3 separate regions of the Homo sapiens genome follow, and all the other regions are linked to region 1. Evidence: fine-mapped expression QTL. A gene starts in region 1. Each other region holds a variant in brackets. All regions are shown on one strand. Distances are from middle to middle.

Region 1 (5,000 bases):
AACCCCAGTGGCCTGGGGCACCAGAAAGAATCAGGGGCCTGGGGAGGGGGAACCTGGAGAAGGATGAGGCTCAGGCTGCCACTGCAGGGCACAGCTGCTGAACGCACAGAATTGCACATCTGGCCCTGATGCAACCCACTACTTCTGAGCCTGCCCACACCAGGCACAAGAAAGCACGCGCATGCACGCGCACGCACACACACGCACACACGCACACACACACCCTGCGGAGTTGCCGACAAAGTTCAGTGCCTGCTTCCATCCAATCCACGAGTCTGGAAATGAGGGGCCTGCTGGGGGGCACCCCAGGGAATACTCTGCATGCACATGCCACCCACCCACCCCTGCCTGTGCCCTGAACTGTAGAGACAGGAGACAGGTGCATTGGAGGGCGAAGCACACAGTCTCAAAGACATTCAAAAACACAGACACCTAAAGCTATCCTCCTACACCAAGTCAGGTATAATGACGTTTTCTCCCCCACCCCAATTAAAGACATCCCTAGAACTCAGACCAGCTACAGCAGCACTGTGGGTGCGGGCAGGCATCCGCCCATCGCCCAGGTTGCTGCCCCTCCCCTGTTCCTTTCAGCCACATCTCCTTTCCCCTCCTCTCATTTTCCACTGCCAATCCCAGGACAGAACTGGACAGCCCTCCTTTCTCCTGCCTCTGCACTTTTCCCGGCCTCCTCCCCCAGCCCTTCCATCTTTATTAATAGCAGCAGCTTCCCAATACTGGGGAAAGTGTGGGCTGTGCCTGCCCTGAACGGGGATGGAGGACACAGGGGGTGGAGGACACACTTCCTTTAAGAAACCAGAGGCCTATCCTGGCACACAAACCCAGGGCTAGTCCATCCGATTGGAAACTAATTATACAGCAAATCGTATTTGCTGCCCCCGCCCCAGCCTGTGGTGGCCCTCCTGCCTTTTGTTGGTTGTATGTGTATGTTTTTTAATTGCTAAACAGTGACTCATTCTGACTGGTCCCCCCACACAGGAAACAGCCCCATCTCCAATCATGCCCTGAACAGAGCTTCCTCATAGCCAGCCTCCGCACTGGCCTCCACTAACCTCCAGGGATCCCCACCCAGAGACACTCCCAGTCCCACCAGAGTGCAGCCTAGCCCCCAGATATCACACCCAGGCCCCAGGCCCCAAGGTGGGGCTTCAGAGAGGACTCCTCGGTGTCAGGCCAACCCCTTCATTTTGGTATGACTCAACCCTGAAAGCCAGAGGACTGGGGAGGGACCTAGGAGGAGCCCCCTCCACTGAAGGGGACGGAAGTATTGCCTCAGTCCAGCTCCAAAACCAGGCCCAGAGGCCTGAGGGGGGAGGCGGTTTGACATTGGCCGCGGCCGCAGGGTGTATACAATGGGAGGGGACGCGGTTCCGTAATCACCCAGCCGGCAGCCCAGGGGAGCCAGCTGCCTGAAACCAGATTTCAAGGCGGCTCAACCTTAAACCCACAGGATTCTTTTTCCGTCTTCCACTTCCCCTCCCCAAATGTGGGAGGGCGGCGAGAGGGCTGTGCTAGGCGAAAGGGCCAGGATGATGAAGACAGATACTTGAAGGCTTGTTCATGCGGCCCGTGCGACACACAGGCACACAGGGCAGCGATTCTCACACAGGGAGAGCCGGCTCTCGGGAGGAATCCAAATAGCGGAGCCGCTGTCGGGGCCTCGCTGGCTGCCCAGGCCCTGTCCAGAGAGACGGCCGGAGTTCTGCTCTCCCTCTGGAAACTCCCCCCACTCCCCCCCCAGTGTGTTTCCAATAGCGCTGAAAACTAACATGGCTGCTTTTGTTTACTTCCTCATTGGTATGCCAGCATCATGGATCATGTCAGCCACAGCAGCGGCACCGGGACACTCATTACATAAACAGCAGCTGGAGAGGCAGGACCGGGGTCACTGCCTCGGTGACTTCCCGTAGGGCCTACAGCAACAAGACTGGGGGAGGGAGCTGCGCACCACAGAAAAGCAACACCCAGACTCTACCCCTGACGGTCCCACACCCCAATCCCATAAAGCACTCAGAAGACGGACCCTGTGCGCACAGGTGCGAGAATGTACCAAGTAGCGACCCGGGGCCCTTCTTCCCAGGACCCTGTCCCCAAACTTTCAGAGAAGAGTTTGGCCAGGGGCCACTGGCCTGATGTCACAAGAGTCAGCCTGTCGGGATGGGTGGTCCCGGGGCGGGAGAGAGGAAGGGACTGTGTGTCTGTGTGTGTGTGTGTGCGCGCGCGCGCGTAGGGTACTTGCCCGGATTTCATTCCTTCGGATCTCCACGTCGCACACCGAGTGTCCCTGATGCGCGCCGCTGTAGTAGCAGCAGTACTGGCACACGGCCACCTGCTCGGCCTCGCAGTGGTAGAGGCGGTAGGCGTTGTGCTGCGGGCAGCTCCAGGCCCGCACGTCGTCCGCCTCCACCAGGAGGTGCCCGCGGGCGGTGGAGGGCTGCTGCAGGTGCGTCTGCACGTGGGACTGGCAGCAGGGCGCCTCGCAGCGCAGGCAGACCTTCTGCGCGGGCAGCGGGGGGCCGCGGCGGCAGAACACGCAGTGCAGCGCCGCCGGCGGCTTCTCCACGTGCAGGGCATTGAACTTCTCCACGATGTTGGTGAGCTTCAGGTTCTTCTCCAGGCCCGGCTTCTGGTTGTAGGCCTGGTTGCACTCTGGGCAGCGTACGAGGCCGCTGTCCTTGGCCCACGCCTCGCCGATGCAGCCCCGGCAGAAGTTGTGTTTGCACGGCAGCTGCACTGGCTCCACGAAAACGTGCAGGCAGATAGGGCAGATGAGCTCCTCCTCGAAGCAGTTCTTCCAATTCTCCGCCATGGCGGCCGCGGGCAGGGGGCCGGGGCAGGCCTCCCCGACTCCCCAGCCCCGGGGGTCCGTCCGGAGCCGCTGTAGGCCCACCGAGCCCCGAGCTCCGGCCCCAGCCGGCCCCGACGGTCGCTCAGTCAGCAGCGCCTTCCGCGTGCCCGCCCCCCGGAGGAGGGAGCCGCGGTCCTCACGCCGCGCGCGCAGCGGGCTGCGTCTCCTCCTCCTCCCGAGCGCCTAGCGGGAGGCGGCGGACTGCGCCAGGGCCGCGGCCGGGACTCCAGCCTTGGAGGGGAGCGCCGGGGTCCAAATTCCATATAAGAGGCCGCCTCCCCGTCGGCGCGGCTAGGGCAGTGGCGGCCCGCGGCCTGCGCTCGTCCCCGCGGCTGACATTGGGGCGCGCCCCGCGGCAGACGGAGCTTGGGAGCAGCACACTTCTTCCGGCGGCGGCGGCAGCGGCGGCTCCTGCCTGGCTCGTCGGCGCCGCACCTCCCTCGCAGGGGCCGGAGCCCGGGGTCTGCGGGGCCAGGAGGCGAGGGCGGCCGCGCCGAGGGCTGCTAGATCCGGACGGGGCGGGAGGGGCAGGCCGGCGGTCCCCGGGCCACGGTGCAGGCGTCCCCCGGCTGGCTGGCCGGGCGCGGGCTGCGGGGCGCGGGCGGGCCGACTCCGGGGCGCTGCGTGCGCGCAGGGGCAGTCATTCAGATGAAATTCCAGTCCCCGGCCAGAGACACCAGCCCGCCTCTGCCTTCCTCCTCCCTTCACAAATAGAAACGGAAGGGGGAGGGAGAGAAGTGGAAAAAAAGGCAACCGGCGAGGGAGGGAGGGAGAAGCCCCGGCGGCGCTCCGGCCTGACCCCCGGGCGGCTACTTCTGCGCTCCCCCGAGGCCCGGCGCCCCCGCCGCGGAGAGACCCCGCGCGCCCGTCTCCGCGCTGGGCGGGCGCCCGGGCTCTGCCGAGGAAAACAAGGATTGATCAAACTAGAAAGGAATTTTTCTCAACTGCTAATGAACAGGAGGCTCGGCTCCCGGCCCTCCCCTCCCCTCCCCCGGCCCTCCCCCTTCGCCCCCCCGGCCCCCTCCTCCCCACTTTCTTTTCTTCTCGGCCTCTGCTGGGGCCTGGAAGGCTCGGGGCTGCGGTCGGAGCCAGCCTGCGGCGGCGGGGCCAGGCCGAGCCGCCACCCTCAGCGCCCAGCCATCTTGGGCTCCGCGGCGGCGGCCGGGGTCTGGGCGCGCTCGCTGAGGGCCCCGCGGCGTCCTCTCGCTCCTGATTCTTTTTTTTTTTTTTTTGGTGGGATTTTTTTTTTTCCAAGGGGAGGGCTGGCGGCCTCCAACAAATTAGGAGAGAGAGAGGGAGAAAATGCCAAGTCCCGATTTCTCTCCACCTCTGCTCCACCCACCCCGGTCCTGTCCAAAAAATAAAAGAAGATGAGAATTGGAAGAAGTCGGCAGAAAGGCGAGAGCCCGCGGTCCCCGGCTGCTGCCCAGGCGACGCGTCCGGGGCGGGCCCGCACCCGTTGCTCGGTCCGAGGTCCGTCTGTCTGCCCGCGGCTTCTCAAGGGAGGGGAGGGCGCTTCGGGCAGGGTCTCCGCAGCCGCTGTCGCCTCAGAGCTTTATCCTCAGATCAAAAAAGAAAAAACAGGAAGAAAAAAATCCCAACCCCAACACTCTCATCACAGCCACCTTCAGCCATCTTGCGCGTATTATTATTTCAGGAATAATCTGTTTAATAAAAATACCTGCGTATCCAGCCCCTCCCCCGCGTCCTGGGGTCCCCGCCCCCTTTTAATAATAATCTCGATAATAAAAACGATCGGCGGGCCGGGCAGTCCGTGGCGGCCCTTTCCTGCCTCGACTTGCTCGGGCCCGGCTCTCCCCCCGCGAAGGGGCGCCCCGGGGTGGGGGTGCGTCCCCGTCACCCGCGCGGGGAGGAAAGGGCGCCCTCGCCGCCGCCGCGAGGAAGGCGGCGGCGGAGATGCCGCGGCCCGCGGGACCAGCCGGAGGGGCACTCGGGGGTCCCGGGGCCCCCGCCACGGCCCGGCCTGGGAGTCCGCAGCCGGCCGTATACAATGGGTTCGGAGCAGAGCGGGGCAGGCAGGGTGGGGAAACGGGAGGGCCAGGGGCTGCAGCGAGCCGAGCTCCCGGGCTGGGGCGGAAGGAGACGGGGGGTGGTGTCCCTACATCAAGGCCGG
Region 2 (11,079 bases), 60 kb before region 1:
GCAAAACTCAGCCCTATGATAAATTTAACTTCTAATCGCTGTCTCCCTTCATTTGACAGTTAAAATAAAATATGGGCATATATGTATAGATGCACAGAATAGACTTATTCTGGTCTCTTTCATCCAGCCTCTTAAATCAGCTTACTTTGTACCTTTCAGGCAGAACCCTGATCTCTATAAATATCCTCTTCCCTATTTAGCAAACCCTGATAATCCTGTGATCCCATCCTCAGTAGTTGGATTAATATGATGCTGTATTATATTTGCACTTGTCTTCCCTAGACCATGCTTGAAATGCCATTTATCATTTTGCTGGAAGAAAACATTAGCTGAACTTTGCATTTCTCTGTAATTTCACTCAAAGGTGAAGTATCTGAAGTTATTATTTCCTAATAAGGAAAATTACTCATTAGAAATGTAGAAGCACTGTATTCTACACCATTAGGTTAATAAAGTTTATCTATAGTTAGAATTTTTTTTTTTTTTGAAACAGTCTAGCTCTGTGGCCCAGGCTGGAGTACACTGGTGTGATCTCGGCTCACTGCAACCTCCACCTCGCAGGTTCAAGCGATTCTCCTGCCTCAGCCTCCCAAGTAGCTGGGAATATAGGTGCCCACCACCATGCCTGGCCAATTTTTTGTATTTTTAGTAGAGGCAGGGTTTCACCATGTTGGCCAGGTTGGTCTCAAACTCCTGGCCTCAAATGATCCGCCAGCCTCAGCCTCCCGAAGTGCTGGGATTACAGGCATGAGCCACTGCACTCAGCCTTATAGTTAGAATGATTTCTTTTTCTTTCTTATCTGTGCTTTGCTCCTCTCCTTTTAAGGTGAATAAACATTATGTTTGTCTCTTTTTTTTTTTTTTTTTTTTTGAGACAGAGTCTTGCTCTGTCACCTAGCCCATAATGCAGTGGCCCGACCATAGTTCACTGCAGCCTCAAACTCTTGGGCTCAAGCCATCCTTCTGTCTCAGCCTCCTGAGTAGCTGGAACCGCAGGTGCACACCACCACACCTGGATAATTTTTTTTTTTTTTTTTTGGTAGGGATATGTGTCTCGTGTTTGTTGCCCAGGCTGATCTTGAATTCCTGGCCTTGAGCTATCCTCCTGCCTCAGCCTCCCAAAGCACTGGTATTACAGGTGTGAACCACTGTGCCTGGCCTTGTTTTTCTCTTAATTCTTTAATATCAAATGTAATGAGTGTGGAGCAAGTCTCTGCCTGAAAAAAAAAACAGTATTTTTAGTAACTTCTTTAAAAGAGACACATGAGGAAAAACCCAAAACATTAATTTTAAACTTTGAAAATATTTTATAGGCCGGGTGCAGTGGCTCACTCTTGTAATCCCAGCACTTTGGGAGGCCGTCACGGGCAGATTGCCTAAGGCCAGGAGTTTGAGACTAGCTTGGGCAACATAGTGAAACCCTGTCTCTACTAAAAATACACAAAATTAGCTGGGTGCGGTTGTACACATCTATAGTCCCAGCTACTCCGGAGGCTGAGGTGGAAGGATCACCTGAGCCTGGGAGGCTGAAGCTGTAGTGAACCATGATTTCACCACTGTACTCCAGCCTGGCATTAGGAGTGAGACCTTGTCTCAAAAAAAAAAAAAATATATATATATATATATATATAATATATGGTTTTATTTTTTGTTTTTGTTTTGAGATGGAGTTTCACTTTTGTTGTCCAGGCTGGAGTGCAGAGGCATGATCTTGGCTCACTGCAACCTCTACCTCCTGGGTTTAAGCAATTCTCCTGCCTCAGCTTCCCAAGTAGCTGGGATTACAGGCATGTGCCACCATACCCGGCTAATTTTGTATTTTTAGTAGATACGGGATTTCGCCATGTTGGCCAGGCTGGTCTCGAACTCCTGACCTCAAGTGATCCACCCACCTCGGCCTCCCAAAGTGCTGGAATTACAGGTGTGAGCCACCACACCCGGCCAAAAAAAATTTTTTTTAAAATAGGAAACAGATCTTCCTTCATAATTTCTGCACTAAGCAGAAAATGCATGAGAAGAACTTTGCCTGTGTCATTTAATGTACTAATTTGATAAATTCCAGATGTTTTATAATTTATTTTAAGAGGTAATGAGACCTCTTCTTTTCACTTACAATCAGGAACTCAGGATGAGTAGTAAAATGGGTTTTCCTCTTAGCCTTTTTATGTCACCAGTCCCCTAAGGATCTCAGAATTTTAATTTTTACTTTTCTGAAAGGTGATATTATAAATGAGTGATTGCAATATAGCTAATAGAAACCAGGGAGACTTCTTGTAAATATAGTTTTAAGAAGGAATGCTGTCAAAGTATTCAAGACCAGATGAGATAAAAACAGCAAAAAAAAAAATCTTGCCTTTGGGTGGATCGCTTGAGCTTAGGAGTTCAAGACCAGCCTGGGCAACATGGCAAAACCCCATCTCTACAAAAAATACAAAACTTAGTGGGGCGTGGTGGTGTGAGCCGGTAGTCCCAGCTACTGGAGAGGCTGAGGTGGGAGGATCGCTTGAGCCCAGGGAGTCGAAGCTGCAGTTAGCCGTGTTCACGCCACTACATTCCAGCCTAGGCCACAGAGGAAGACCCTGTCCCCCCAAAAAAAAGAAAAAGGAAAAAAAAGTCTGGCCTTTTAAAAAGCCAGACTTCTGTTTGTTTCCAATCTATTCAATCTCTGTCCCCCAAATCTTTTGGCATAGAATTTGTCTAGCTTAGACTAAACCTTCCATCTTACTGCTGGAAAAAATTGAGGCATAGAAAGGTTAATGTGGTCCTTAGCAAGTCAGTACAGATACAGTACTAGAAGTGGTAAACAAAGAGTCTCTGAGGCAGAAAGGAATTCTTAATAATTATGCATATTTGCGTATGATTGTCCAAAGATGCAGTTGTTGAGAATTATTTCTCAGAAGTATCCTTTGATCTTAGTGAACAAACTGGTTTGAATTATTGCCTGGTACAATGTGAATAACAAATACAACCATTTTGCATAATTCTAAGACTCAGTTTGAAGGAATTTCTTCTTGGGCTGGGAGATTAAATTATATGCCCTTTAAACTCTGGGATTCTTTGACTCTTGTTCTAGCCATGTGTCGTTAGAACAAGATTATCAGCTATAGCACAGAACAAATAACTTTCCTATAAAGATGTTCTTATGTTCTTAACTAAAAATCAACATGGTTTATTTATTTTTTCTTTGTTTTCTTTTTCTTTTTTCTTTTTTTTTCTTTTTGAGACAGAGTCTCACTCTGTCACCCAGGCTGGAGTGCAGTGGTACAAATACAGCTTACTGCAATCTCGACCTCCCAGGCTCTAGCAATTCTCTCACCTCAGCTTCCTGAGTAGCTGGGACCACAGGCCTGCGCCACCATGCCTGGCTTATTTGTTTTTTATTTTTTGTAGGGACAGGGTCTCACTATGTTGCCAGGGCTGGTCTTGAACTCCTGGGCTCAAGCAGCCCTCCTGCCTTGGCCTCCCAAAGTGCTGGGATTATAGGCGTGAGCCACCATGCCCAGCAACATGCTTTATATTTCTATCCATAAAAAATAATAAATAATGGCCAGGAGAGGTGGCTCATGGCCTGTAATCCCAGCACTTTGGGAGGCCAAGGTGGGCTGATCGCTGGAGGCCAGGAGTTCAAGACCAGCCTGGCTAACATGGCGAAACCCCATCTCTACTAAAAATATAAAAATTAGCTAGGCATGGTGGCACATGCCTGTAATACCAGCTACTCTGGAGGCTGAGGCACAAGAATTGCTTGAACCCAGGAGACAGAGGTTGTAGTTGAGCCGAGATTGCACCACTGCACTCCAGCCTGGGTGACAGAGGGAAATATTAGATTAACAGTAAAAAATTCCTTGGTTAATTTTGGTGGGTTTTTGTTTTGTTTTGTTTTGTTTTGCTTCATGGATGCCTTTTATGATTTCTTAACTTCTCTGTTGTACCAAATTTTTCATCTAAAAAACACAGATTATCTATACCATGCACCTATCCTGTAGGGTCTTGTGAAAGATGATAGTAGAACATTTTGAATGAAGAAGTCTTGAAGATGTGCTGAAATAGATAAAATCTTTTTTTTTGAGACGGAGTCTTGCTCTGTCACCCAGGCTGGAGTGCAGTGTGCAATATCGGCTCACTGCAACCTCCGCCTCCCAGGTTCAAGCGATTCTCCTGCCTCAGCATTTCGAGTAGGTGGGACTACAAAGCGCCTGCCACCACGCCCGACTAATTTTTTATATTTTTTGTAGAGACAGGGTTTCACCGTGTTAGCCAGGATGGTCTCGATCTCCTGACCTCGTGATCCGCCCACCTTGGCCTCCCAAAGTGCTGGGATTACAGATGTGAGCCACCGTGCCCGGCGATAAAATCTTTTTTAAAAATTTTTTCCTTTTAATTTTTGTGGGTCCATGGTGTTATATATTTATAGGGTACATGAGATGTTTTGATACAGGCATGCAATGTGAAATGATGAAATAGATAAAATCATTAACAGGAAGCCCAACTATAATTTTATATAGCCTTTTTATATATTTTTGTATAACACCTTAAAATCGTGTGTTAACTTGGGTGTGTCATCCTATTTAATTCCACAAGTGTTATCTAGTGTCTGTTTGATAAGTGCCAGGCATTATGGGACAAGTATAGCCCTTACCACGAGAAACTTTAGTAAAGGAGAAAAATACAAACATCAGTTACCTAGTTTGATATGATGAATGTTCTGCTCTAAGTGTATGTAAAGGGCTTTAGGAACACAGATGGGGTAGAGTTCACACTCCCAGGAGATTTGGGGTGACTGCTAAGCTAGATTGATTGGAGGAGCAGAAATAAGCCCTGCTACTTATTAAGTTGCTGAATTTACTGTAGCACTTCTACCGAAACTTGGAAAGAGGAAGCAAATGGAATAAGTGGCATT[A/G]GAATGAAAAATAATAACATAAGCTCTCCATAACCAATAACTTTTTTCAAGGAGAAGTTATTCTCATATCCAGTTAATATCACAGTCAGTGCCCCCAGAGTAATCTGTCTCCTTTGTGGTTGTTGAAGGGCTTGCTCTCAATTTTGCGCAAGTTGAAAAGTGCACCAGACCAGGAGGTGAGAATACTTCTCCTGGGCTTGGATAATGCTGGCAAGACCACTCTTCTGAAGCAGCTTGCATCTGAAGACATCAGCCACATCACACCTACACAGGTGAGCACTGCCTTGGCTCCAGATGCCGTGTGACACAGGAAGACGATAATAGCAATGTGAAAGACAAAATGGGAAATACAGTTTTGTCCACTTCCAAGTTTTGTCTCTGAGAAAAGTCTATACAATCTAAAGATAACCAGATTTCAAAAATATGTAAGAGATTCCATTCTCATGAGGTATTTAGAGTAGTCAGATTCATAGAGACAGAATGCAGAATGGTGGTTACTGGAGCTGGGGAGGGGGAATGGGGAGTTATTGTTTAACGGGTACAGTGAGTCAGTTTTGCAAGATGGAAAGAGTTCTGTGGGTAACGGCCCACAGTGTGAATGTATTTAATGCCATGGAACTGTACACTTTAAAATGGCTGAAATGGTACGTTTTATGTTATAACGTTAAAATGTGTACGCAGACACACTTCACAGTACCCACTTCATCAGGCCACCCCACTGCAGCATCTGCATCCCACTGGGCTTCAGCCTCCACACAGCACCTTTCAGCACATGCACCCCTCTTCCGTCTCTGCCCCACCTTCCCCACCCGCACATGTCCTCAGCAGCTGCATATTGTACGTGTTATGTTACAATTTAAAATATATGTATACATATATACACATGTGTGTGTTTGTGTGTATATAGACAAATCCAGCAGATCTGAGTACCTATATTCTTTTTATTTTTATTTTATTTCTTTAAATTATTTATTTTTTGAGACACAGTCTTGCTTTGTCACACAGGCTGAAGTGTGGTAGTGCAATCTTGGCTCACTGCAACCTCCGCCTCCCAGGTTCAAGCGATTCTTGGACCTCAGCCTCCCTAGTAGCTGGGATTACAGGCGCACACCGCCATGGCCCGCTAATTTTTGTATTTTTTTGTAGAGCCAGGGTTTTGCCATGTTGGCCAGGCTGGTCTCAAACTCCAGACCTCAATGATCCACCCACCCCAGCCTCCCAAAGTGCTGGGATTACAGGTGTGAGCCACCACACCCAGCCTATTCTTTTTTAAAAAATAGCTTTATCTTCTCTGATTATGAAAGTAGTGCATGTAGAAAACACAGAGAAAGTATAAAGGAGAAAACTCTGAGAAAAACCATGGTTAATATTTTACCGTGTACTTTTCAGACTTAATAAATACAAATATGTATCAATTTTTAAAAGAAAAAAAAATTACCTGCCTTTTTTTTTTTTTTTTTTTTTTTGGAGACAGAGTCTCGTTCTGTTTCCCAGGCTGGAATGCAGCAGTGCAATCTCAGCTCACTGCAACCTGCGCCTCCTGGGTTCAAGTGATTCTCCTGCCTCAGCCTCCCAAGTAGCTGGGACTACAGGTGCACGCCACCACGCCTGGCTAATTTGTTGTATTTTAGTAGAGACAGGGTTTCACCGTTGTTGCCCAGGCTGGTCTCGAACTCCTGAGCTCAGGCAGTCCACCTGCCTCGGCCTCCCAAAGTGCTAGGATTACAGGCGTGAACCACCTTGCCCGGCCAATTACCTGCCTTTTTAAATCCAGTCTCATCAACCTTCCTCTTTCCTGAAAAGGGCAAGCAAGCAAAGCATAAAGGATAAGGGAATGATAGTGCTCACAGCGTGGAGGTTTAAAGATGAGTCCTGGGCCGGGCGTGGTGGCTCATGCCCATAATCCCAGCACTTTGGGAGGCCGAGGTGGGCGGATCACAAGGTCAGGAGATCGAGACCATCCTGGCTAACATGGTGAAACCCCGTCTCTACTAAAAATACAAAAAATTGGCTGGGCGTGGCAGTGGGCACCTGTAGTCCCAGCTACTTGGGAGGCTGAGGCAGGAGAATGGCGTGAACCCAGGAGGTGGAGCTTGCAGTGAGCCGAGATCATGCCACTGCACTCCAGCCTGGGCGACAGAGCGAGACTCCATCACAAAAAAAAAAAAAAAAAAAAAAAAAAAAAAAAAAAAGACAAGTCCTGGGCACCATGGCTCATGCCTGTAATCCCAGCACTTTGGGAGGCCGAGGTGGGTGGATCATGAGGTCAGGACATGGAGACCATCCTGGACAACATGGTGAAATCCTGTCTCTACTAAAAATACAAAAATTAGCTGGATGTGGTGGTGTGCACCTGTTATCCCAGCTACTCAGGAGACTGAGGCAGGAGAATGGCTTGAACTTGGGAGGCGGAGATTACAGTGAGCTGAGATTGTGCCATTGCACTCCAGCCTGGCGACAGAGTGAGACTCCGTCTCAAAAAAAAAAAAAAAAAAAAAAGACAAGACCTGATTGGAAAAACTGTAGTGGGTTTCTTAGAACTCATTCCCTGTAGGAAATCCTAAGAATGCCTGACCTTTGGCTAAGCCAACAGGGAGAGCTTGTTGGTCTTAGTCACTTTAAAGTGTTTGAGCATTAAAGGTTAGAGGTTTTAGCAAAACCAGAGTTATTTTCCATCACTGTACCGTGATAAGACCCTGGTGTCAGGTTTGAATGGCTGTGCTGGTGTGCATGCATACTTCACGGCCCATGAGTCTTACTGATTCACAACTCTTTATGGAAAAGTCATTTCAACTGCTACCAAATGAACAATTTTTACAGCTTCTGAACAAATTTAATGTATAGCCCAAGCAAATTACAGTAATCTAGCCTAGAAGGGCTGAAAACACATATTAGTGTGTCAAGATTTCTGCCAGAAAAAGAAGCACTAGTTTTTGTGTGCATGCGCTTGTGGGGTTTTTTTGTTTTTGTTTTTGTTTTTTTAGTATTAGCAATAAACTGTGTCTCTCAAGAACACTAACGTGAAGACTTCCACACTGCAAACACAGAAATAAACTCAAAGTTAGGAACCCAAAGTTCTCATTCTAACCTTCAGGCTTTGTTTGATGTGTTATAGGTAACTCTGATATTATATTGTGTCAAGGTTTCATATTCTTTAAAAACAAACTTTTATTATGTTTTTTGTTTTATATTAGAAAAAGTAATAAATGCTCATTGTAGTAAATTTAGGAAGTATAAATAAATACAATTGAGAAACTAAAAGTCACCTATAATGCCCAGTCAGACATACCACTGTTCACATTTAGGAATGTATCAAGTTTTTTTCTATGCATATATATGATGGGTATATTTAAAATAAAAAATAAAAATGGCTCATAGAGGATATACTAGCTTGTATCATCTATATCTAGATATAGATTTTTTTTAGAGACGGGGTTTCACTCTGTCGGCCAGGCTGGAGTACAGTGGCACCATCCATAGCTCACTGCAGCCTCAAATTCCTGGGTTCAAGCAATCTTCCCACCTCAGGCTCCTGAGTAGTTAGGACTGCAGGCATGTGCCACCACACCCAGCTAATTTTTTTTTTTTTTTTTTTTTGGTAGAGATGGGGTCTCACTACATTGCCCAGGCTGGCCTTGAACTCCTGGGCTCAAGCAGTCCTCCCGCCTCAGTCTCCCAAAATTGGGATTATGGGTGTGAGCCACTGAACCTGTCTCCTCTTGTTCACTTAATAATAGATCATGAACATCTTTCTATGTTATTATATATGTAAATACTTATGTAATATACATCTCTAAATGTTTTTGCCCATTCATCATTATTATTTCCTCAGAATAAATTCCTAGATTTGTTGGGTCTCATGACTTATAGCTGTTTAAGCCCATTGATACATATGGTCAAATTCCAAGATTCACTGTTACTTGTATTCCAAGATTTACTGTTATTTATTTTCTGCTTTATTCCAGAAAGGATTCAGTATTACTGAGTTTGACATTTAATATCATTGTTGAGTGTGGAATTTTTAAATACACTAAAGTAGTTTTGCCAGTGAGTCACAATGAAACTTTTTTCAATAAGCTTAAGCCATTTCCCTTTAGAATTCTCGAACTTCTAATGTATTCAGTCATTGGCGTGTTAGAGAAGTGAGAGTCAGCAGGATCCCCAGTTATCCTCCAGAGACTGTGTATCCGCAGTGGAAATTGGGTGGCAATATTCCTGTCCTATTGCACTGTGCCTTCTCCTTCTGTGCCAGGCAGCAGTGTTGACAGGCTACCACATGAAACAAATGTTTGTGGAGGCATCCCCAAAGCTATCTAACTCCAGTTATTCTGGATGAAATGTCTCTTCTGTGGTAGCAAGCTGTTGACTGGGTTTTTCAAATCCTGGTTTCCCTATGTAATTTTTGCAAGAAGACTTTAAAAAAAATTCTTGTTCATGCAATACATTCTCTGGGAACCCCAAAGGGCTTGTTAATTTGTTTCTTTCCACACTGACCCCCACCTGGCAATTCTGCCTGTCCCTGATTTGCTCACCTTCCTCAAAGTTTCACCTCAAGTAACTGTCTTAAAAATGAAGACTTCCAGCCCGGTGCAGTGGCTCACACCTGTAATCCCAGCACTTTGGGAGGCTGAGGCGGGCGGATCACCTGAGGTCGGGAGTTCAAGACCAGCCTGACCAACATGGAGAAACCCCATCTCTACTAAAAATACAAAATTAGCCAGGCATGGTGGCGCATGCCTGTAATCCCAGCTACTCGGGAGGCTGAGGCAGGATAATCGCTTGAATCCGGGAGGTGGAGGTTGCGGTGAGCCGAGAGCACAACTCTGCAAAAAAAAAAAAAAAAAAAAGACTTCCGGCTGGGCACAGTGGCGCATGCCTGTAATCCCAGTGCTTTGGAAGGCCAAGGTGGGCGGATCATGAGGTCAGGAGTTTGAGACCAGCCTGACCAATATGGTGAAACCCTGTCTCTACTAAAAATACAAAAAATTAGCCGGGTGTGGTGGCAGGCGCCTGTAATTCCAGCTACTCGGGAGGCTGAGGCAGGAGAATCACTCGAACTTGGGAGGCGGAGGTTGCAGTGAGCCAAGACCATGCCACTGCACTCCAGTCTGGGCAACAGAGCGAGACTCTGTCTCAAAAAAAAAATGAAGACTTCCTTTTCAAGTTCAAGTTCATCATAGTTCCCTATGAAAGCACTTTTTTTTTTTTTGAGATGGAATCTCACTCTGTCGCCCAGGCCAGAGTGCAGTGGCATGATCTCAGCTCACTGCAACCTCTGCCTCCAGGGTTCAAGTGATTCTCTTGCCTCGGCATCCTGAGTAGCTGGGACTCCAGGCATGCGCCAACACGCCTGGCTAATTTTTGTATTTTTAGTAGAGACGGTGTTTCACCATATTGACCAGGCTGATCTCGAACTCCTGACCTCCTGATCCATCCGCCTCGGCCTCCCAGAGTGCTGGGATTACAGGCGTGAGCTACGCACCCAGCCTGAAAGCACAATTTTAACTGACCACTTGTTTGTTTCCATCAGTGTCTGCAACTGAGGGCTCCACCTCCCTACTGGGCTGATATATTCGAGTTACAAACCCAGCCTCCCCCATAGCATCCTCAGTTCTGCTCTTTTTCCTGATTAATCCCTGTAGGAAATTTATTTTGAGCTGCTCTTGAAGAATCTAATCCTCTAGATTTGTAGCTTTTGCCTCTTTAAATTTAGCTTGTGTTCTTTCCTGTTGAGTCTTCAGATTCAGCTTTTTTTTTGTTGTTAGTTACATGAAATGTCCTGTTAAATTTTACCATCCTGAAGATTCATGGGCATGTGATGTGTGTTGGTTAATTAGAGCTATTCTCATTTGGAGTTATCCTCAGTAATTATATATGTATATATGTTCATTGTAGAAAAACATTGTGTTAGCCTGACATTATTAACACTGACTCCACAACCTGGATGAAACAAGCATGTATAAATATGTTTCTGTATTCTCTGTCACAACAAATCATTTTCAGCATTACCAGTATCACATATGGCAGAGTACTTTAGAATTAATAAAAAACATAGCTATTAAATGTAACTTTGTCAGAATTATGATCCCAAAGTTTAATAAAACTTGATGTTTTTGTCCCTGTTTCAGGGTTTCAACATCAAAAGTGTACAATCACAAGGTTTTAAACTGAATGTATGG
Region 3 (11,079 bases), 27 kb before region 1:
GGCCTGGGACCCCCACTGCCCGCCCCTCCAGGCTAGAGTGTGTGGTGCTTTTCTTATAACTAACACTGCCTTTCTCTGCCCATTTCCCTCAAAGGATGGCATGAACTGGGTCTGCAAAAATGTCAATGCAAAGAAGAAATAAAATCTAGACGAATGGAGATGCAGGAGCTGCGGGAGCCGAATTCGGTCCTGAAAAACACTAATTTGCTGCTTTCTGACCAAATGTTTTTCCATCTGTGTACAGCTCCAGCTGTTTGAAGAGAGGGAACAACACGGTTTAGAAAGAATCCCCATTCCAGCAGTAGATTTAACTGATCTCTGAGGTTCAGTATCATTTTTCAAATAAAGGAATTATATTATTTCCTCTGCATAATTGAAATAGTATTAAATGTCTCAAAGCACATGATTAGAAAATGAGATCTTTTAAATGAGCAAGAGATTGCATTGCAGTTTAGACAATTCCAGTGGGCTTTTTTTTCCTCTCAAAAAAAAAAAAAGAAAAAGAAAAAGAGGAAGAAGCAGCTTTGCTGAGTTCATTTATTTACTGACCCGTCCCTTGCATTCCCTCCATGGTTTTGAAACCACAGACAGTGTTTGCTGGTGCTGTCAGTGATTTTTACCGTCACTAGCCCAGCCAGGCTTCAGTCTGTCCGACAGGAAGCTGCTGGGTGGGGGTGGGGGGAGAAAAGGCAGATAATTAAACCATCTCATCGTCTTGCAGGTCGGAGACTACGTATGTAATCCTCACTCTTTGGACAGAAAAAAAAAAAAAAGTCTTTCTTGCAGACAAGTCACTACAGAAACATACCCCATCCCACCCACCCCTGCCTCTGCCCCAGCCAGCCACACAGAGAAGCAAATTCTTATGACTTTTGACTGTAATGACATCTGGAATGTAAGGAGAGGTGGGAGGTTTAATTCCAGAAAAATTACAAGGTCCTTAAAAAGCTCTCACATCGAGGGCTCAGGCTAGCGTAAACAGGCTTTCTCCAGCTCAGTGGAGCAGTGAGCAGCCGACTCTGAGATTAGCTGGCTTCTCCACGGCCGTCCTATAGACAGGATTTCTAAAGCTCAAAGAATTCTGTGTTTAAACGATCACAATAGGCCGCTGCTATCAGATTTTAGAAATAAATGCAGCTTTACCATGAACCTGCTCCACTGAGAAAAGCCAGGCAGATCGATTTTTAGATCAATTTTTACAGTGCTGGCAACTTGGTGGTGTGGGATGCTCCTGGATGGAGAGGGTTTGCTGCTGGGGAGGACATGGGTGTGTGTGTGACTGCAGGGGTCGTGTCCAAGGAATCAAGAGTCACCCCAGCTGCTGGGCTCCTCTGCCTCTCTGCAGCAGAATGTCCGTCCTCTGTTGATTGATTGGAGAGGAATAGCAGAACATTTCTCCTGCCCCTCGTTGCAAAACGAGCTTGTTTCCCTGAACCTCAGAAATCCTCAGCTTCAAACATGGGGAAACAGGCCAGAGCATTGCCCGGCTCCTGAATTAAACTCTGTTCTGGTGCCTGAGCTCAGGGGTTTTCAGAGAATGAATAAGAGACTGTCCAGTGACTGGTGGGTCCCTGGGGGCCAGCTGCCTTCTCATCCTGGGAGGTGGCCCTTCCCAAGCCCATCAGGGCGTGTGAGCAGACTGAAGGGGCCGCTGCAGCCCCTGGCCCTCAATACCCAGCTGCTTCTGGCTAAGAGTGCAGCAGAGACTGAGGCATAGCCAGCTTCAAAAGCGATCTGACATGAAAGTCATTAACAAAGCCAGCCGTGAAAAGGTGCCCCAGAGTTGCTGTGGACAGACCTGTAAGGACTTGCAAAACAAAAGAAAGTGAGGGGTTTTTTTAACCTCAGAGCTAGCTGCTCTCTGCAGCCTCCTCCACTGGCTTCTCTGGCTCACCCAAGCTCTCCCTTACAGAGGCAACACAGAATTATAAGGAATCAGAAATCCCCCTTCTACCAGGCTGCAAATGTGGCTCTAGCACTTGCAAATTGTTTTTTCTTCCGAATAGTTCAGCAGGGACAAGTTATCTGAGGGGCAAAATGCCTGCTTGGAGGTCTGCAATTTTGGAACACTGCAGTATGGAACTTTGGCATTGGAGGGTCTGTAAAATATTTTTGTTCTTTTACCACCAACTTAGGGGACTGTTTTAAAGAGCCATCCCAAGGCCTCTCCTAGCAGGCAGAAGCCACTCCTCTGATAACGGCCTCTGTAAATGTTCTGATTTGCTCTCAGCTGCAGAGACACAGAGACACTGCAGATGTCACACGCTTTCATCTTCCCTTTGAGCCCTTTTGAACCCTCCTGGGGCTCTGGGGTAGATGAGAGAAGCCTGAAAAAGGCAGAGTTTGAAAGCTCCCATTTAAAAACAAAATACTTTTTAAAGCCCTCTTGCCTCTTCCCTGCCCACTCCTGCCCCCTGACCAGAAGACAGAATTTGAAGCTGGAAAGGGAAGACCCCTTTTCCCCTCCTCCTGTCCCCAGTGAGTCTTAGCGAGACTTTTGCCCTGCGCACAATTGCATCTGAATGTGCGGGGGAGAGGGCTGGGGGCCGGAGGGCAGGCAAGGCCTGGGGGGTGCTCGTGATATGTGCTCAAGCCAGTTGTGGGAAAAACTCGAGTCCTCCCCTCCTCCCGACCTACCCCGTGTGGCTGCTTTTGGCTGGATTCCCTGCACCCAGTGCAACACACCCTTTCCCCTTCACTCTCCCTTGGTTACTATGGAAACAAGGGTGTCATTGATGTGGGCTGAGCTGGGGAACATGTCGGTGCACAGCTGAAAGTCAGCGATTATGCCGGCGGTTAGAAATGTGCCAGGGTTAAAGGAGTCCGCAGCTCCCACGGCTGCTGGGAGGACATGGTCCTGCCCCCTTCCTTCCTCCCTCCCTCCGTCTCCACTTCTCTCTCCTTGCTTTTGACAAATTTCTTTATTCCCCTCTGGACTAAAGTAGTGGCTATTTTTGTGCCACTCTGCGCCCCACCCTCACTGTTGGCCGCTCCTTATCCGGCCTGGCCTGGAGGGTGACACCATGTCACCCTCACCAGGACTCGTCTCTCCATTCCCGTCAGAGTTTGCTTTGATTTCCCTTTCCTTTCCTTCTCGGGGACCAGTTCTTACTTCCTTTTATTTTTAGCTCTGCACTCCATGTGGTTTCAGGGTTCAGTCTGATCCATCAAAAGGTTCTTTTTTTATAATCCCTTTTGAAAATGATAATCAAAGGAAGAGATGTGGTGTTTGGTCATGTGGAAAACTCAATGTATAATTTAGACGTCTGTCAAAAATCCGACAAATAAAATTTAGCTGGAACGAAGGCAGCCTGGAATGTGTTGTGTTCTTTGCTGAAGCTCAGAGAGGGCCTGAAATGTGTTTGTCCTTTCAGGGGTTAGCTTTCTTCAAGAGGTTTTTTCCAGAAGGATATATATATAAAATAGGATACCAACAATAGCAATAATAGCCCTTCATTAAGCCCCTCCTACGTGCCGGGCACTTCAGATACATCGTGGTGAGCATTAGTCCCCCTTTGCAGCAGAGGACATTGAGACATTTGCCCCAGTTAAGGAATTTGCCTGAAATCACAGAGCCTTTAAGTGCAGGTGGGGCCTGGAGCCTGGGTCTCAATGCTCAGCAAGCTGCCGCCTCTGGAGAACAAAAACAGTCAATGGCAAGGCCGGATCACGCCTGTAATCCCAGCACTTTCAGAGGCCAAGGCAGGTAGATCTCCTGAAGTCAGGAGTTCAAGACGAGCCTGACCAACATGGTGAAATCCCGTCTCTACTAAAAATACAAAATTAGCCGGGCGTGGTGGCACGTGCCTGTAATCCCAGCTGCTTGGGAGGCTGAGGCAGGAGAATTGCTTGAACCCAGGAGTCAGAGGTTGCAGTGAGCTGAGATCGTGCCATTGCACTCCAGCCTGGGCAACAGGAGAAAACTCCATTGCAAAAAAAAAAAAAAAAAAAAAATTTGTCAATGGCTCATCTCCCAGCAGCCTCAGCCCCCCCAGCCTCTGAGTGCTACTTCTGCCCAGCCTCCTCCCCTCAGCCTCTGACAAGCACTGCTCCCCTGGGTTCCCTGCCCCAGGTGTTGGGTGTCCTCTGCTCACACAGCACAACCATAGACTGGGTTTCATCCTTGGCCAAGTCCAGCCCAACAGACAGGAAAAAGGGAGAAGAAATAATTAGCAAAGTTAGGGCCTTCAGGGAGACTTGCAGTTACATAGTACCTAATACTGGATCTTCCATTTACAGAGGGTTCCGAGAGGGAACAGACCTGCCCAGTGTTACATGGAAGGTGCAGAGTTGGCAGCTGTCCCGGGCTCTGCCCTCTGGAGCAGAAGAGTTCGTTGTCCCTTCAGCAGGCTAGAGACACAGCAGCACAGCTGGTCCCAAAGGGCCTCACCATTTGTGTGTGTGTGTGTGTGTTTTGTGTTTTTGAGACAGGACTTCGCTCTGTCACCCAGGCTGGAGTGCAGTGGCACAGTCACAACTCACTGCAGCCTCAACCTCCTGGGCTCAGGCCATCCTCCCAACTCAGCCTCCCAAGTGGCTGGGACTAGAGGCATGTACCACCATGTCTGGCTAATTTTTTTTTTTTTTTTTTGAGACAGTCTCGCTCTGTCGCCCAGGCTGGAGTGCAGTGGCGCAATCTCAGCTCACTGCAAGCTCCGCCTCCCGGGTTCATGCCATTCTCCCACCTCAGCCTCCCTAGTAGCTGGGACTACAGGCGTCTGTCACCACGCCGGCTAACT[T/C]TTGGGGTTTTTTTGTATTTTTAGTAGAGATGGGGTTTCACCGTGTTAGCCAGGATGGTCTCAATCTCCTGACCTCGTGATCTGCCCACCTCGGCCTCCCAAAGTGCTGGGATTACAGGCGTGGGCCACTGCGCCCGGCCTTTAAAGAGCAAGCTGTGGGCAGAACTAGCTGGTAGCTGGAAGCAGGAGAAAGAAGAATTAGGGTTGCCAGATACATTACAGAACATTCAGTTAAACTTGAATTTCAGATAAACAATGAATAGTTTTTAATTCAAGTATATCCCATGCAATATTTGGGACATCAGTATAACATTAGAAAAATGCATTGTTTACCTTAAATTCAAATTTAACTGGCCATCCTAGCTTTTTGGTTTTGTTTTGATAAAGCTGGCAAAACCCTTCCCAGCACTCCCTGCCCAAAAAAGGGACAGCGCAGTGCAATTAAAAAGTGTGGCTGGGTGCGGTGGCTTATGCCCATAATCCCAGCATTTTCATGTTGACTAGGTCAGCACAGGGAGATTTAAAAGAGATCTCATGTAAACAAAGTGCCTAGATCTAGGACAATACCTAGCACATAGAAGGAACATTCCATGCCTCAGTTTCTTTTTCTTTTCTTTTTTTTTTTGGAGACGGAGTTTCGCTCTTCTGCCCAGACTGGAATTCAGTGGCACGATCTCGGCTCACTGCAACCTCCACCTTCCAGGTTCAAGCGATTCTCCTGCCTCAGCCTCCCGAATAGCTGGGATTACAGGCATGTGCCACCATCCCCAGCTAATTTTTGTATTTTTCGTAGAGATGGGGTTTCACCATATTGACTAGGCTGGTCTTGAACTCCTGACCTCAGGTGATCCACGTGCTTTGGCCTCCCAAAGTGCTGGGATTATAGGCGTGAGCCACCGTGCCTGGCCCTCAGTTTCTTATCTTCAAAATTGGGCAATAATCATGCTGCACAGTTGTCAAGAGGATGAGATGAGATGTCCGTACAGTGAGTAGTAGGTGCTAAATCAATGGTAGCAAATATAACAGCTGGCAGAAAGTCTGGAGTCCAGGCTTTCCAAGGCCCCTAAGACCTCTACCTCCCACCTTCCCTCCCATGTGGCTCTGTGACTTTCAAGGCCAGCAGCCCCCTCCCTTCGGGACTCCCAGGGCCACCCCAACCACACCTCCTGCTTAGCTTTGTAAGTGGGAAAGGCTCTTATCAGAGGCTCCTGATTGGCTCCAGGCGCAAACACAGTTTAGTGCTCAGTCAAGCTGCATCTCACGGCCTCTGTCCCTGTCTCCCCCTCATCCCCCTTAATTGCAATCTGTTCTGTAATTTCCTTTTCCAACACTGCAGAACACAGAGAAGCTGCAGCCACCAGGAGCAGGGGCAGGGAGGAGAGAAAGAGAGCCCTGGCTCCCTGCAGTCATTCTGCTGGTCCAGCACTGGTGTGTGTGTGTGTCCAGAACCAACCACACACAGGCGTGGAAGTGCAGCCAACAACCAGTCCCCCACAGTGTCAGAACCGGGGGAAAGAGTTAAGGAGGTAGCCACTTGCACCAGGTACTTCACAGTTACCTTATTTAATCCTCGCAAAGACACTGTTAACTGTAGGTATTGTCATTCACAGTATGAGGATGGGGCTCATAGAATTTGAATCACTCGCCCATGATCGCACAGGAAGAACTGGGCACAGTCAGGATTTGAACTCAGGCCTATTTCACTGCTGGGTCCCAAATTTATACCACAATACCTGTTTGCTTTTGGCTCCTAATGCTCTGCTCTCAGAAAAGGAGCTAAGGAATCCTTCTGCACGAAGGAACACGGAACAGTTTCTTCTCCAGAGCGAATAGCAGTGTCCCAGGGACAAAAAGCCTTTGCTAAAGAAATGAAATATTAATGACAGAACTGCAGAAAGCAAGCTGTGTCCAGGAGGGGGCAGGGAGAATTTGCTTGGATACCTGAAGCTGAGAGGTACAGGGTTGGGGTCAGAATCCCATTTAGCTAAGCCAACTGCTTCTCCTTTGAGTCATTAGTGGGTCTCATCCTTTGATTAGCCCTACAAGATAGCCGTTTACTGTCCCTAGTTCCCAGATGATGAAACCAAGGCTCACAAAGGTTAAGTCACTTGCCCAGAGTCACACAGCTAGGAAATGGCTTGACTGTGATTCCCGCCAGCCCACTTGCTGAAAGCCCATTTTATTCCATGATGCCACCCCAGGGAGGTAGGTGAGAGGCGGCCCTCGCTTTTTGCCACTCACCCTGTTTTCAGGATCCAGAAGACCCTGCCCTGGGGTCCCAGAGTCAGCTGCTGCTCTGGATGCCACCAGTAGAGGGGGCAGGAGGTGCCCAGCCCCACCCTTACAACCAAGGAAAGGGCCTGGGGAGGCTGTTGTAGTTGGGGCTTTGGCCTGGGATCAGCTGCCTCCACTTCCACCCAGGACTCAGAAGCCCCTGTGCCAGCCCCCTGGAGGCACAGCCCTAGGAGCCCCCCAAGACCGCTGGAGCAGGAGGAGAAAGAGCTCACCATAGGAGACACACGGGCTCCGTCCACAGGCAGGCCCTCTTGGCCACATTCCTAACACTAGAGAGGCCTGTCACCCAGGCCACCACTGACTCATGTGGGAGATTATGCCCCACACCAGAGTACAAGGCGTGGCACCAGCTGCAGGCCCCTCAGCCAGTTCCCTTGGGTAGGGCACAAGCTGTACAGCTACACTTGGCCCTGCCTGTGACACCAGCCAGACCCTTCCCTGGGCCTACATTTCAGCACTGTTCCCCAGCCCAGGCCCAGGCCCACCTAGAGCACCTGGTCCCGGGCTGGAGCCCAGCATTCTCCTTCCCTAGCCCTCCTTGCTGCCAGGACGTCAGAATCCTGCAGAATGATGCTGGTCCACCAACCTCAGCCCCCTTGGATTCCCTTTGGAGGCACAGAGCAAGCCTGGTCTAGGGTTGTCACATAGGAATGGGGCTTCCCTCGAGTCTCCAGGGGACAGTGCCAAAGCAGTTTTCCTGCTGGAATGCTACAGATGGCTTCTGGGAAGATGGGGATAAGAAGCTTTGGTTTGTAAACAACAGCCCATCCTGGACCAAGGGATCCAATCCAGCCCAACTCTTCCCTCACTCTCCCCAGCTCCTATGGGGATGCAGCCTGGATTTCATCCTTACTCATGCCCCAGGCCCCTTTCCCGCCCTGAGACCTCCAGATCTGGCATAGCAGCAGGTCGGAAGAAGAAAAAGCAGGAGGAAGGGGCATTCAGGGGCTGAGATGCTGATCCAGGCAGTGGGGGAGGCATCTGCACAGCTGCAGGCAGCCCCCCTACCCCCAGTCTGTGAATGGGTACATCACCCTCTCCCGCCCGCCTGCCACTGCTCCTGAAACAGTTGGTCCTAATGAACACTAAGCAAGCAGGGCAGCTGTGAGCATGATCCATATGCATGGGAGGTGTATATTTATCCTCACATCCCGCCCCACCCTGCAGCTGCTGCCATCCCCTATGCCAGGAGGGTGAGTGGGCACCAGGGCCCAGCCTGCTCCCGGGCTCCCAGGCCCCCACTTCTCCCAGCCCTCCCTCCCCAACCCACGCCCACAGCCTTCACTTGACCCATTTTGGAGGCAGAAGTTTGTATGTGTGTTTGAGAGAAAGAGAGTGCACACATCATTTCCCTGGTTGGTGCTTTTGATTTCCTCTGAAGCATCTTGATTGCGGATGTACAATGGCATCTTGCTGCCAGTGCTCCCTCAGCAGCTTCTGGCTCCACGCCGCCTCCTCCCTGGAGCCGGGATTTTCTGCTGACTCTGGGGCCCATGGCTAGCTGGCAGGGAAGGGGAAAGCTTGATCCAGGCTTCCATCCCTTGGCTGAGCAGCAGGACCTGGACACCCAGCCACCTGCCTTCCCACTCCTTAGACTGGGTTGAGGGTGCACCCTGAACCCCACCTGTCTCTCCCTTGGCCCTCCCACTGCCTCCCAGCTTGGGCTGGACTCCCCTGCCTGATCCTCCTTTGAGGGGTTAGCGCCATTATTAAAATGCAGTACCCTGCTAAGATGCCTTCAGAGGCCCTGCTGCTGTGGGTCCCTCCAGCCAAACCATTTATCCTGTTATTCAAGGCCCTGCTGATCTGACCCCAAACCTTTTTAATGGACTTATCAGCCATGGACTCCACACAGCCTTTGTGCCCAAGTCTCTCCTCACTACTCCCCCAAGCACAATCCCTACAATTTCATTTTCCCACCTGTGTGCACAGCGACCTCCTCCCTGGGATGTCTGCCCCCTCTTTTGAGCTTTCTGTTCCTTTAGGGCGTGCTTCAAGTCCTACCTCCCTAAGAGGACAGCCGGGTACCCTCTAACCCTCTCCCTGTGAAACCCTTCATCCAGCAAATATCTCTCGAGCAGAAGCAAAACCCCTCCCATAGCCTGTGCCCTGCCCTGTCCCCTCACTGCCTTGTCTGACCTCATCACTTGCTACTCTCTCCCACCCCCAACACTTTCCAGCTGCCCTCGCCCCCTGACTCTTCCTGAAACAACATTTTCTGCCTGAGGCCTTTGCACTGGTTCTCTCTGCCAGAAGCATTCTAGCTCCAAGTATCCCCCAGATCTTGCCCCCCCAAATTCTGAGGTTTCTGCTCAATGCCACCTCCTCAGCCAGACTGCCCAGTCCTCCCTGTAAACACTTCCACACCCCCTCCCCTTCTGGTATCCCCTGTGCCCCCACCTGCTTTGCCTTCCTGGACTGTACTTATCGCCAACTCATGGTGACTTTTTTTTTTTTTTTTTGAGATGGAGTTTCATTCTTGTTGCCCAGGCTGGAGTGCAGTGGTGCGATCTCGGCTCCCTGCAACCTCCGCCTCCCAGGTTCAAGCAATTCTCCTGCCTCAGCCTCCCAGGTAGCTGGGACTACAGGTGCCCGCCCCGCCACCACGCCCGGCTAATTTTTTTGTATTTTTATTAGAGACGGGGTTTCACCATGTTAGCCAGGATGGTCTCAATTTCCTGACCTCGTGATCCGCCTGCCTCGGCCTCCCAAAGTGCTGGGATTACAGGCATGAGCCACCGTGCCTGGCCTTTTTTTTTTTTTGAGACGGAGTCTTGCTCTGTTGCCCAGGTCAGAGTGCAGTGGCACGATCTCGGCTCACTGCAACCTTTGCCTCCTGAGTTCAAGTGATTCTCCTGCCTCAGCCTCCCAAGTAGCTGGGACTACAGGCGCATGCATCACCACGCCCGGCTAATTTTTGTGTTTTTAGTAGAGACGGAGTTTTGCCATGTTGGCCAGGCTGGTCTCGAACTCCTGACCTCGGGTGATCTGCCCACCTCGGCCTCCCAAGTGCTGGGATTACAGGTGTGAGCCACTGCGCCCAGCCTCACAGTGACTTTTTTTTTTTTTTTTGGAGACGGAGTCTCACTCTGTCGCCCAGGCTGGAGTGCAGTGGTGTGATCTCGGCTCACTGCAACCTGCGCCTCCCAGGTTCAAGCAATTCTCCTGCCTCAGCATCCCGAGTAGCTGGGATTACAGGCATGTGCCACCATGCCTAGCTAATTTTTTTGTATTTTTAGTAGAGACAGGGTTTCACCATGTTGCCCAGGCTGGTCTCGAACTCCTGAGCTCAGGCAATCTGCCTGCCTTGGCCTCTCAAAGTGCTAGGATTACAGGCATTAGCCACCAGGCCCGGCCTCTCACGGTGACTTCTTTAGGGTTGATTGTCTAGCTCTTCCCCACAGATGATCAGCTCCAAGATGGCAGAGTTTGTTTTGTTCGCTGCTATATCCCTGACATTGAAGCAATGCCTGGAACAAGAAGGAGCTCAATAATGACTTATTGGATGAATGAATGAATGAAACAAACATACAGGCATTGTGCTAGGCCCTGAAAAAAAAATCAGAGCTGACTCACATTCACGTCCTCCAGGCACTCACAGCCTAGTTGGACATTAAGCCAGGCAGCTTGCAACTTAACCTGTGAACCACAATTAGTTAAAATCCAAAGTGAGGGAGCGAAGTGCATGGGAGTATGGCTGGCCCAAAGGAACATAAACATTGTGATAGCTGCGGATGCCTGAAAGTCACCTATGCCAGCACCAGACCTGGCACTCATATGCATCGTCTCATTACCCCTTAGCCACTCTCTGCAGAGGGGGCGGGGGCCACGAGGGCTGCACAGAGGTGAGACTTTGAGGCTAGAGAGTCAGTCCAGGCAGAGGGTCAGCAAGTCCAAAGCCAGTGAGGCATGGAAGCACGCAGGTTGCAGGCAGACTGACTTCCAGCATATGGTGTGCTGGGTGGAGACTAGGGAGCTGCAGCGGGCGGGACTGGCATTTGGTGTGGCTGGTAAGTCCCTCTTAGGCCACAAGCTGCACATCTGC

Alleles and levels. Alleles are on the strand shown, and positions count from the first base shown. SD is a standard deviation of normalised expression in the study named. Not every link is listed here.
For the expression in pancreas of the gene that starts at base 2,966 in region 1, C is the low allele of the variant in region 3 and T is the other (small effect, 0.39 SD a copy in GTEx).

What was found. PIP is the estimated chance that this variant, and not a neighbour inherited with it, causes the effect. A credible set is the group of variants that fine-mapping cannot tell apart.
Region 2: its variant is the best candidate, but not a certain one, in a credible set for the expression of TRIM8 in whole blood (INTERVAL, PIP 0.79).
Region 3: its variant is the best candidate, but not a certain one, in a credible set for the expression of TRIM8 in pancreas (GTEx, PIP 0.55).

What each region holds. Positions count from the first base shown.
Region 1 is chr10:102,642,445-102,647,444 of GRCh38, reverse strand. It overlaps TRIM8 (tripartite motif containing 8), which reads right to left and starts at 2,966. Exons shown (of 6, transcript NM_030912.3): 1 at 2,258-2,966. The coding sequence starts at 2,827. TRIM8-DT (TRIM8 divergent transcript) reads left to right here and starts at 4,256. Exons shown (of 1, transcript NR_186489.1): 1 at 4,256-4,653. RefSeq lists silencers at 1,315-1,531, 2,817-3,796, 3,877-3,976, 4,247-4,306, 4,637-5,000 and enhancers at 1,707-1,806, 2,587-2,716, 2,818-3,573, 3,574-4,328.
Region 2 is chr10:102,699,439-102,710,517 of GRCh38, reverse strand. It overlaps ARL3 (ARF like GTPase 3), which reads left to right. Exons shown (of 6, transcript NM_004311.4): 2 at 5,029-5,172; 3 at 11,029-11,079. Among named protein-coding and RNA genes, the nearest start is that of ARL3, 9.4 kb to the left of the region's middle. The variant A/G (reference allele first, on the strand shown) is at 4,901.
Region 3 is chr10:102,665,957-102,677,035 of GRCh38, reverse strand. ARL3 (ARF like GTPase 3) reads left to right here. Exons shown (of 6, transcript NM_004311.4): 6 at 95-3,305. The coding sequence ends at 142. Among named protein-coding and RNA genes, the nearest start is that of TRIM8, 27 kb to the right of the region's middle. RefSeq lists enhancers at 2,682-3,231, 6,135-6,736, 6,737-7,338, 7,339-7,941. The variant T/C (reference allele first, on the strand shown) is at 4,740.